2 separate regions of the Homo sapiens genome follow, and region 1 is linked to region 2. The links come from fine-mapping of genetic effects on gene expression. A gene starts in region 2. The other region holds a variant in brackets. All regions are shown on one strand. Distances are from middle to middle.

What was found. PIP is the estimated chance that this variant, and not a neighbour inherited with it, causes the effect.
Region 1: its variant is the best candidate, but not a certain one, in a credible set for the expression of LRIG2 in tibial nerve (GTEx, PIP 0.83).

The regions. Positions count from the first base shown.
Region 1 is chr1:113,102,543-113,108,065 of GRCh38, forward strand. LRIG2 (leucine rich repeats and immunoglobulin like domains 2) reads left to right here. Exons shown (of 18, transcript NM_014813.3): 12 at 5,052-5,215. Among named protein-coding and RNA genes, the nearest start is that of LRIG2, 32 kb to the left of the region's middle. The variant G/A (reference allele first, on the strand shown) is at 2,755.
Region 2 is chr1:113,070,381-113,075,380 of GRCh38, forward strand. LRIG2 (leucine rich repeats and immunoglobulin like domains 2) reads left to right here and starts at 2,818. Exons shown (of 18, transcript NM_014813.3): 1 at 2,818-3,265. The coding sequence starts at 3,027. It overlaps LRIG2-DT (LRIG2 divergent transcript), which reads right to left and starts at 2,722. Exons shown (of 3, transcript NR_103777.1): 1 at 2,559-2,722. RefSeq lists enhancers at 2,289-2,538, 2,597-3,130, 2,789-3,098, 3,131-3,662, 3,279-3,338 and 1 more.

The sequences.
Region 1 (5,523 bases), 32 kb after region 2:
TACAGGCATGAGCCACCGCGCCTGGCCTGTCAAGATATTTTTTTTTTTTACCCCAAACTGCTTTGTTCTAACTTACCTTTTTTGTTGTTCTTGAAAAGCATATCGAATTTACAGTTTTAATAGGTCCAACAATAAAATTATGTTCATATTTTTCTTTTTAAAGAGAGAGTTAGGAGGCAGATCATAATAGACCATGAGGAATTAGGATTTTTGCTTTCTTGTATGCATTAGGAAACTGGAGGGTTTTGAGAAAATGCTCAGCACAGAGCTTGGCACAGAGTAGAAGCTGAGTAATGTTAACAATAAAAACTAAAATTAAAATGTTATGAAAATCATCATAGTTATTTTCTGCCAGATTTTTAAAGTAGATATTTTGATCTGTTGAGATATTTTGAGTTATTTCTCATAGGCTTAGTTTAATTATAAGTTGTGACTTACTACAAATTAGTATACTCCGCCCCCCTCCTTTTTTTTTGCCAGTGATAACCTGAGAGCTGGCAAGAAAGTTTTAACTGTTACAAGAACTCAGTTTAACATAAAATTTAAACAGTAGGTCAAAGCAAATATTGCAGTCTCAATCTTCAGAGAGTCATTTAGTAATTTGAGAGTTGTCACAAAGATTCTTTGCTTGACCAACCCGTAGGCAAGCCCTTAAACCTTCTCCTAGGCCTAGCTGTGTAAAATCCAATTTTAGCACAAACCCTGTAAAACCAGTTTAGCAAGAACTCTTCCTCATTGTAGACCATTCCCAGGTGATGTCTGATCACCCTGGCCTGTCTTCAGCAAGAATCCTGTTAGGGTTTAGCCAGAGTCTTCCTTACTCTGGATGTTATTTTTTAGTAATTTCACATCCACTGAGTGGGATGAAAGCAAACCCACCTTGCTCCTTGGCTATACTTGCCCTTGCTGTTTCCCTACTGTCTCTCCCTCACTGAGTCGAACCCAGTCTCTCTCCCCAGCTGCAACATCACATTGCCGTGGTCCCTATATCTATTGAGATGATCCTGAATAACGTCTACCTTACCATGCTTTAACAAGTATCACTGAGTAATTTTTTATTTAACAGTTACGGTGCTGTGACTCCGATAGGATCAGATTCATCATTGGACCCCCAGACCTCTCACCCAGGACCCCAAGTGTGCACCTTTGAAGCCATTGTCTTCACTCCTGACTGATAGATCGGGGATCCAATGGTGAGTCAGACTAACGAACCATTGCTCCGGACAAACATCTGTTGAAGCTGGTAAGGAAAGATTTCGATTCTCAAGATTGTGAATATATTCTCTGGAGTTGGGCTAGAGGCCAGACTTCTTTTGAAAGGTACCTCCTGGGCTTGAAGGTCTTCTTCCTGGCTCTCTTTCCTGAGTGGGGTTTATTCCCTGACTCCCTGGACTAAAAGTCCTTGGAACTCTGTGAGGCTACTCTGTTGTCTCTAATGGATCCTACTTCTCCCATGGCAATTTCTCTGGCATCTGAATCCCCTCTGTTTGAGCCCCTGCTAACTATATTGCTCCACCACTGGTTCTGTCCACCTCCTCCTTGTTGGACCTTTATTGGCCTGTTTGGAATACTTAAGATCTCCCCAGACTGCATCCTGTAAGCTGTCTTTCTTCCCATTGCTACTGCTCCTTATTCCTCCTCTTACCACCTTTAATGTTCCTTCCAGTTCCCTTGAGCCCTTTGATATGACTCCCTTCAAATTCTTACATCCTCCATCCATCTGTCCACCCACTGCTAGACTTTTTCCTTCTCATTCTGGACTCTTTGTCACTGGGACTGTAGGCCCCCCACCCTTCCTGGGGATCTCTCAGGGGACTTGGGGACTCCCAAAAGTAATGACTTGGGTTGAAAAGGAAAAAGAACAATTGGAAATAGCCTAAGTATTTTATCTACACTCAGATGGGCTTTGGAGATATCCAGACAGCCCCTAGATGTCTCTTCAGCCTCCATGAGATTACACATCATGGCAAAATAAAAGTCTTTTTTTTTTTTTGAGATGGAGTCTCCCTCTGTCACATAGGCTGGAGTGCAGTGGCACGATCTCAGCTCACTGCAGCCTCTGCCTTCCGGGTTCAAGCAGTTCTGCCTCAGCCTCCTGAATAGCTGGGATTACAGGCACCCACCACCACACCCAGCTAATTTTTGTATCTTTAGAAAAGAGGAGTGACCTCATCCAATTTATGTTTTCTTAGGTATAATATAAGCTGGACTCAAAAGACCTGGGCCCATATCCTAACTCTACCATTTATTTTAGACGTGATACTGAATGCCTCCAAAATCTCAGTTTCCATTTCTAGAAAATGGAATTGAAAATGCCTACCTCAACCGGGCACGATGGCTCATGTCTGTAATCCCAGTACTTTGGGAGGCCGAGGCGGGCAGATCACGAGGTCATGAGTTCGAGACCAGCCTGGCCAATATGGTGAAACCCTGTCTCTACTAAAAATACAAAAATTAACCAGGCGTGGTGGCATGTGCCTGTAATCCCAGCTACTCAGGTGGCTGAGGCAGGAGAATTGCTTGAACCTGGGAGGTGGAGGTTGCGGTGAGCTGAGATCTCACCACTGCACTCCAGCCTGGGTGACAGAGCAAGACTCTGTCTCAAAAAATAAATAAATAAATAAATAAAGTATTTAGCCCCGTGCCTGGCCACAGACAAAACTTAATTCACAGTAGCTTCCTTCACTTCTGTGTCTTTTGCTTCTTTCCATTCTTCATATACTAACCAAATCCTGAGCACAAGTACTTAACAGA[G/A]TATACGGTATTCTCTCAACAAATGTGTGGATAGATTATACTAAAATATTGCTAGTGGTTGTCTTTGAGTAGTGAGGATTTGAGGAGCTTTCTCTCCCTCTTGGTTTAGTGGTACTTTCTAATTTTCTACTATAATTATATAACTTTAATGGAAAGTATTTTAAAATTTATATGCAAGTTTTTCATACACCTCCTGTTATTGATGCAAAGCCTTGTGGGGAATACCAAAAAGTATAGAGGGATTTTAATAAATGTTGACCTAAAAAGTATTATAAATATGACTTTTAAAGTAACCAAAAGCAACCAACAATTCTCAGTAAAAAAGTTGCATTAGAGCCAGGTGTGGTGGCTCATGCCTGTAATCCCAGATACTCAGAAAGCTCAGGTGGGAGGATCCTCTGAGTCCAGGAGTTAGAGACCAGTCTGGGCAACACAGCAAGTTCCTGTCTCAAAACACAGTTGCGTTAAAGTTCCTGCAATAGCAGTTTGTTCAAACCAACTGTTAGAGAAAAAATTACTCAATGAAACTTGTTAAAGCATTATAAAAGCATAGTAATCTTTGCCAGTGCCCCTCTTGTTTAATAACAATATGTCAACTTTGAACAGTTGAACAATGTAAGTCAATTTTTTTCATTCTTAAAATTGAAACTTTGCCAGGCATGGTGGCTCACGCCTGTAATCCCAGCACTCTGGGAGGCCAAGGCAGGTGGATCACGAGGTCAAGAGATCAAGACCATCCTGGCCAATATGGTGAAACCCCGTCTCTACTAAAAATACAAAAATGAGCTGGGCATGGTGGCACGCACCTGTAGTCCCAGCTACTTGGGAGGCTGAGGCAGGAGAATCGCTTGAACCCGGGAGGCGGAGGTTGCAGTGGGCCGAGATTGCGCCACTGCACTCCAGCCTGGGCAACAGAGCGAGACTCTGTCTCAAAAAAAAAAAAAGAGTTAAAATTGAAATTTCTGTGGAATCAGATCTTAGATACTTTATGCCAAACATTAAACTTGATAAGGATTTGATCATGCACATAAAGCAAGTTCTCAAAATCATTTACTTTCCCTGCTTCTAAGTGGATGGGACATTTAAGGGGTCATTGAGAGAAAATACTGATTTTTCAGATATGTTTTACAGGGTTATAAACCACAAATACTTTTTCAGTGCTCTTAGTTTAGATTGCATTACACATTGCACGGTGTTGAAGTGGGTTTTCTTTTTGTTTTGTTTTTGGGAGACAGTCTCACTCTGTTGCCCAGGCTGATGTGCAGTGGCGTGATCTCGGCTCACTGCAACTTCTGCCTCCCGGGTTCAAGCAGTTCTCCTGCCTCAGCCTACCAAGTAGCTGGGATTATAGGTGCCATCCACCACGCCCAGCTAATTTTTGTATTTTTAGTAGAGATAGGGTTTCGCCATGTTGGCCAGGCTGGTCTGGAACTCCTGACCACAGGTGATCCGCCCGCCTCTGCCTCCCAAAGTGCTAGGATTACAGGTGTGAGCCACTGAGCCTGGCCTAGTGCTGAAGTGTTTTTAGTGTTGATGAAATAATTTGACAATAATTATATGTTGTCTACAACAAAGATCTCTCAATGCTCCAATATATAGTAAGTGTTTCCCCATACTTTCATGGGAAAAATTTAAACCTCAAAAATTTAAAGGAAGGTACAATTAACACCCCATACCCTTTATCTAGATTCACCAATTGTTAACTTTTTGCTGAATTTGTTCTATTTCCCTCCCTCCTCCTCTCTCATTTTATCTCTTGCTCTCTCTCCACATACACACAAATATATATATACATATATGCACAGTTTTTTTGCTGACCATTTAAAAGTTGCAGCCATGGTGACACTTCACCTCTAAATATCTCAGCATGTATTTTTTAAGAACAAGTACATTTTCTAACGAAGACATCACCATTACCACACCCAAAGAAATTAACATCGATAAGGTAATATTAACTAATACAGAGTCCATACTCAAATTTCCCCAATGTTAAAAAAAGTCATTTGCAGATTTTTTTTTCAATCAAGGATCACACATTTCATTTTATTGTAATGATTCTTTAGTCGTCTTCAAAACAGATCCCTGGCCACCCTTCTTCCCCTCTCTTTTTTTAGTGTCTTTCATGAGGTTGATATATTTAAAGAATTTTGGCTGACAGTCTCAATTTGTTTTCTCATGATTTATGTTAAATGTTTTTGGCAAGAATAATGGATAGGTGTGTGGTAAGGTTTTAATACTGAAGACGTTTAGAATGAAAAGTAAAACAAAGGATGCTTTTCCTCTTTTCTTTCCTGCAGGATTCTGAACACAAGCAGTTTGCTCTGTGACTGCCATTTGAAGTGGCTACTTCAATGGTTGGTTGATAATAACTTTCAACATTCTGTGAATGTAAGCTGTGCACACCCTGAATGGCTAGCAGGGCAAAGCATCCTGAATGTGGATCTGAAAGATTTTGTCTGTGGTTTGTATTTTTGTTTTAAAATTTTATATATTACACACTTATAATCTTAACAGAATTAAAAAAATTAAACCAGAATGGTTTTCCACTAGGAATTTTTGTAATCATACAGTTTTAATTGCCATTAAAAATGATCACAGGCATTTTAATGAATGAAGGCTTTTCTCTTTTAGAGGGACTGTTAACCTTAGGTTAGGTATTTGGTAGTCAGATTCCTGAATCAAGCAATATGAGTTTTTTTATATGAACATTTTTAGTAGATCTTGAAAAGTGCCACCAGGTACTTTCCAAAAAGATAGCACTAGTTTAAA
Region 2 (5,000 bases):
GGCCAGCCGCCCCGTCCGGGAGGGAGGTGGGGGGGTCAGCCCCCCGCCCGGCCAGCCGCCCCGTCCGGGAGGGAGGTTGGGGGGTCAGCCCCCCGCCCGGCCAGCCGCCCCGTCCGGGAGGGAGGTGGGGGGGGTCAGCCCCCCTGCCCGGCCAGCCGCCCCGTCCGGGAGGTGAGGGGCGCCTCTGCCCGGCCGCCCCTACTGGGAAGTGAGGAGCCCCTCTGCCCGGCCACCACCCCGTCTGGGAGGTGTGCCCAACAGCTCATTGAGAACGGGCCAGGATGACAATGGCGGCTTTGTGGAATAGAAAGGCGGGAAAGGTGGGGAAAAGATTGAGAAATCGGATGGTTGCCGTGTCTGTGTAGAAAGAAGTAGACATGGGAGACTTTTCATTTTGTTCTGCACTAAGAAAAATTCCTCTGCCTTGGGATCCTGTTGATCTGTGACCTTACCCCCAACCCTGTGCTCTCTGAAACATGTGCTGTGTCCACTCAGGGTTAAATGGATTAAGGGCGGTGCAAGATGTGCTTTGTTAAACAGATGCTTGAAGGCAGCATGCTCGTTAAGAGTCATCACCACTCCCTAATCTCAAGTACCCAGGGACACAAACACTGCGGAAGGCCGCAGGGTCCTCTGCCTAGGAAAACCAGAGACCTTTGTTCACTTGTTTATCTGCTGACCTTCCCTCCACTATTGTCCCATGACCCTGCCAAATCCCCCTCTGTGAGAAACACCCAAGAATTATCAATAAAAAAATAAATTAAAAAAAAAAAAAAAAAACACATATTTGCGGCTGGGTGTGGTGGCTCATGCTTGAAATCCCAGCACTCTGGGAGGCCGAGGCGGGCGGATCACCTAAGGTTGGGAGTTCGAGACCAGCCTGACCAACATGGAGAAACCCCATCTCTACTAAAACTACAAAATTAGCTGGGCGTGGTGGCGCATGACTGTAATCCCAGCTACTCAGGAGGCTGAGGCAGGAGAATCGCTTGAATCCAGGAGGCGGAGGTTGCGGTGAGCCGAGATTGTGCCATTGCACTCCAGCCTGGGCAACAATAATGAAATTTTGTCTCAAAAAAAAAACAAAAAAAACAAAAAAAACAAAAAAAACGTGTATTTGTGGCCAGTCACAGTGGCTCATGCCTGTAATCCCAGCACTTTGAGAGCCCGAGGTGGGTGGATCACCTGAGGTCAGGAGTTCGAGACCAGCCTGGCCAAAAAGGCAAAACCCCGTCTCTACTAAAAATACAAAAATTAGCCGGGCATGGTGGTGCACACCTGTAGTCCCAGCTACTAGGCAGGCTGAGGCAGGAGAATCGCTTGAATACGGCAGGCAGAGATTGCAGTGAGCCACTTACTGCGGAGGATACAGGTTAGAGAGCATTAATTTCTAATGGCCCCATTTGGTATAGTTTCATAGGAAAGCTCTGAAACTATAATGTAGAAAGGAACTAAACTGCCTCCTTTTTTTTTTTGTAAGGTTCCTGCCTATGCCGGATTTCTTACCAGAGTTTGTTAAGTCTGCTCAACAGCTAAGGGAAGAAGGCTAAGAGTAAGTTTCATTCCGCTGTCTTGGCTTTAAAAGTTTGGTTTGGACTGTAGCATTGGATATGGCCTTGTTTCCAATATATACTTCAATATTAAAAAAAAAAAACAGAAAAAGGTTTTTAAAAACATAATTATGACTCCATAATCTGCCATGGGAAAGATTGCTTTCAGTTACTTTCTATGAGAACCCTAACCTAGGCATTATCATTCTTTTTAACCTGCTCAGATTTTCAATTTATGTCAGAAAACCCATGTTAATGTCGAACCTGCCCCTGCCTCAAGAGTAACTTGGTTTAACCTCTTGGGGCTTGTTGCATCATCAGCAATAATTGTCTTGCCAATGTCACAGTCACTGAAGGAGCAAACAAGATAACAGATGCAAACGCCCTTTGAAAAGTTCACTACGTATAAGTGAACCATCACTATTATTCTCAAAGTCTTATTTACAACCTTGGATGGCTGAATGAGCATAAGATGGCCAGACTTCACTGTTCCTAGTAAGTTTTCCATAGCCTCTGCTTTAGGAGAAATAAATTTCCTCACATCCAGTCTTTGCTTTGTTGACTGCTCAACACCCTCTTGTCTCGCTTGCTTTTCTGAGAGTGACCTTGACAGCATCCCTCCAAAGAGAAGGGTATTTCCTTTATATAGACATGCAGGTGCAGTCCCACCAAAATTTATTGAACTCCAAGCTAGAACAAAAGGTGGAGGTGCACCGATGAAGAAACAGGGCCTCTGCCTTCAGGAGCTTACAAGGCCATTAACAGAGAGTGATATTGATCTTATGCAAATGGCAGTTGCCGCCTACTTGCAGAAGAGCAGGGGCTACAGCCAAGCAGCAGGGGGCAGAAGAGGCTCGAGCTCGGCTCTGGAGGCCGATCTGGCCAAAGCCAGGATAGAAGCTCCCGTGACCCATTCGTGTGTGCGACTTGGAAGGCAGCCCTTCTGCCACTCCCCTTTCTTAAAGCCCAGAGCAAATAAAAGATCCTTTTCTACTACAGTAGATATACCTGTAGTCAGGACTTTGAACTCACAGCTATTCGCCGCACCATTCCCTCTTAAGGAACTACTGCGCCCTCCAGCGGAAGAACAGCGGCGGAACTCCACAGCGGCAGCTAAAATCCCTGAACGCTTTAAAGTCCTTCTCCTCAAGATACTCGGCTGCGTCTGGCCCCGCCCCTCACTGAGTTCCGCCCCGGGCGCAACCTCATCTTATGGCACCGATTGGCTGGCCCCTGTGCGTGAGGACGTTGCGCCGTGGGGAGGGGCGGACGAGAGGTGTCCGTCAGGCCGTGTGTCCCAGGCCGTCGACCCCGCTGTCGCGCTGCGTCTGCTCCTTGCATGCCTTTAGATGGTACAGCCTTCAGCCGGGGCTTCGGGAGACAGTGCAGCCACCGAGCATCTCTGCTGAGCTTCTCCGCCGATCCTCCTTTTCTAGCAGGCAGCTCTTCTAGGCCACGTCCAGGTCGAGGGGGAAAATGGCGCCGGCGCCCCTAGGCGTCCCGGAGGAGCAGTTGCTGGGGTGTCGATCTAGAGTGCTTTCTCGGTTACTCTTCATTGCCCAGACCGCTCTCCTCCTGTTGCCCGCCGCCGGAGCAGGTCTCTGCCCCGCGCCCTGCTCCTGCCGCATTCCTCTCCTGGACTGCAGTCGCAGGAAATTGCCCGCACCGAGCTGGAGGGCGCTGTCGGGCTTGCTGCCCCCCGACACCGCTATCCTGTGAGTAGAGCGGCCAGGCAGAGTGACCAAAAGGAGGGGGAGCCTTCCCTCTACAGGGGGCAGGCAGGAGGGAGACAGGCCTGGTCGGAGGGTGTGGTCGAGAGCCTAAGCTCTGAAGGAAACTGCCGTCAGGATTTTATGAACTTTGTTTTAGGTGGTGGGAGCCTAAAAAAGCCGGTGTTAAGGTTTCTGGAGAATTGTATGAAGACGAGGGTTAAGATTCTTGGGGCCAAGGAGTCTGTGATTTCCTCAACTGGGGAGGAAATGGGGCGGGCATATTTAATGGTAAGGACTCACGGGTCCTGGGCACCAGCATTGACTTTGGATGGTTGGTGGGGCGGGGGGTGGGTTGAGCACGGAACAGTGCTTTCTGCTTATCTTGAGCTGCATGATTTGGTGTGTACCTCAGACTTAGTGGTCCTCAGGCACGTGATTTTATAATCACAATCGCCAAAGACCTATGAACTGTCTTTAGTCCTTAGTTCGCATGTTGGCTGATTTTGTGCTGCAGTTTTGATACTTAACAGGGTTGAAAAGTTCATTATGATGAATCAGGAGATCCTGTAATTCAGAATATCTTTGTAAGTAGCATTCTTGATCTAATTTAAACTTCACTGTAAAGAGGAGGAGTATTTTTTGCAGAACCATTTGATGCTTTGTTTTCAGCGCATCTTCTTGTGGCAAAGAACCCAAAAATCAGTTCTGCTTATTTATGTAGGTAAAGCAGGTACAACGGTTGAATGAATTCTGGAGTTTCCACTGTTGAGTTTTCACTTTGACAGGTCTTTATTAGACAGTGGAACTTGGAGGGCTCCTTAGTCTGAGTCAGCCTGGTGGTATTAGGAACAACAGCAGGTATTAAATGCTGCAATTATGGGGCTTCTTAACCACTAACATACAGTTATTTCTCGTCACTAACTGAGCAGCACGTTTATTAACTGACAGATTTCTGATGGAGTCGTTAAGAAAGAGTCATCAATGGGCCAGGCGCGGTGGCTCACGCCTGTAATCCCAGCACTTTGGGAGGCCGAGGCGGGCCGATCACGAGGTCAAGAGATCGAGACCATCCTGGCCAACATGGTGAAACCCCGTCTCTACTAAAAATACAAAAAAATTAGCTGGGTGTGGTGGTGTGCGCCTGTAGTCCCAGCTACTCGGGAGGCTGAGGCAGGAGAATCGCTTGAACCCGGGAGGTGGAGGTTGCAGTGAGCTGAGATCACGCCACTGCACTCCAGCCTGAAAACAGAGCGAGACTCCGTCTGGGGGGAGGGAGGGTCGGGGAGGAAGAGGGGCCGGGTGCGGTGGCTCACGCTTGTAATCCCAGCACTCTGGGAGGCTGAGGCGGGCTGATCACCTAAGGTTGGGAGTTCGAGACCAACCTGACCAACATGGAGAAACCCCATCTCTACTAAAAATGCAAAGTTAGCTGGGTGTGGTGGCGCGTGCCTGTAATACTAGCTACACCCTGAGGCAGGAGAATCACTTGAACCCGGGAGGGCGAGGTTGGAGTGAGCCGAGATCGTGCCATTGCACTCCAGCCTGGGCAACAAGAGTGAAACTCTGTCTCAAAAAAAAAAAGAGTCATCACTAAAAAAATAGGTTGAAGTGCAATTAAAATATGAGAGGCTGCTTGGATTTTTATTGGAAATAGAATACAAATAAGAGGTGTTGCGGAGTTTAAGAAGTATTTATATATTTGCAAATAGGTTAGCACAGATAGGAAAGAAAGCTACCT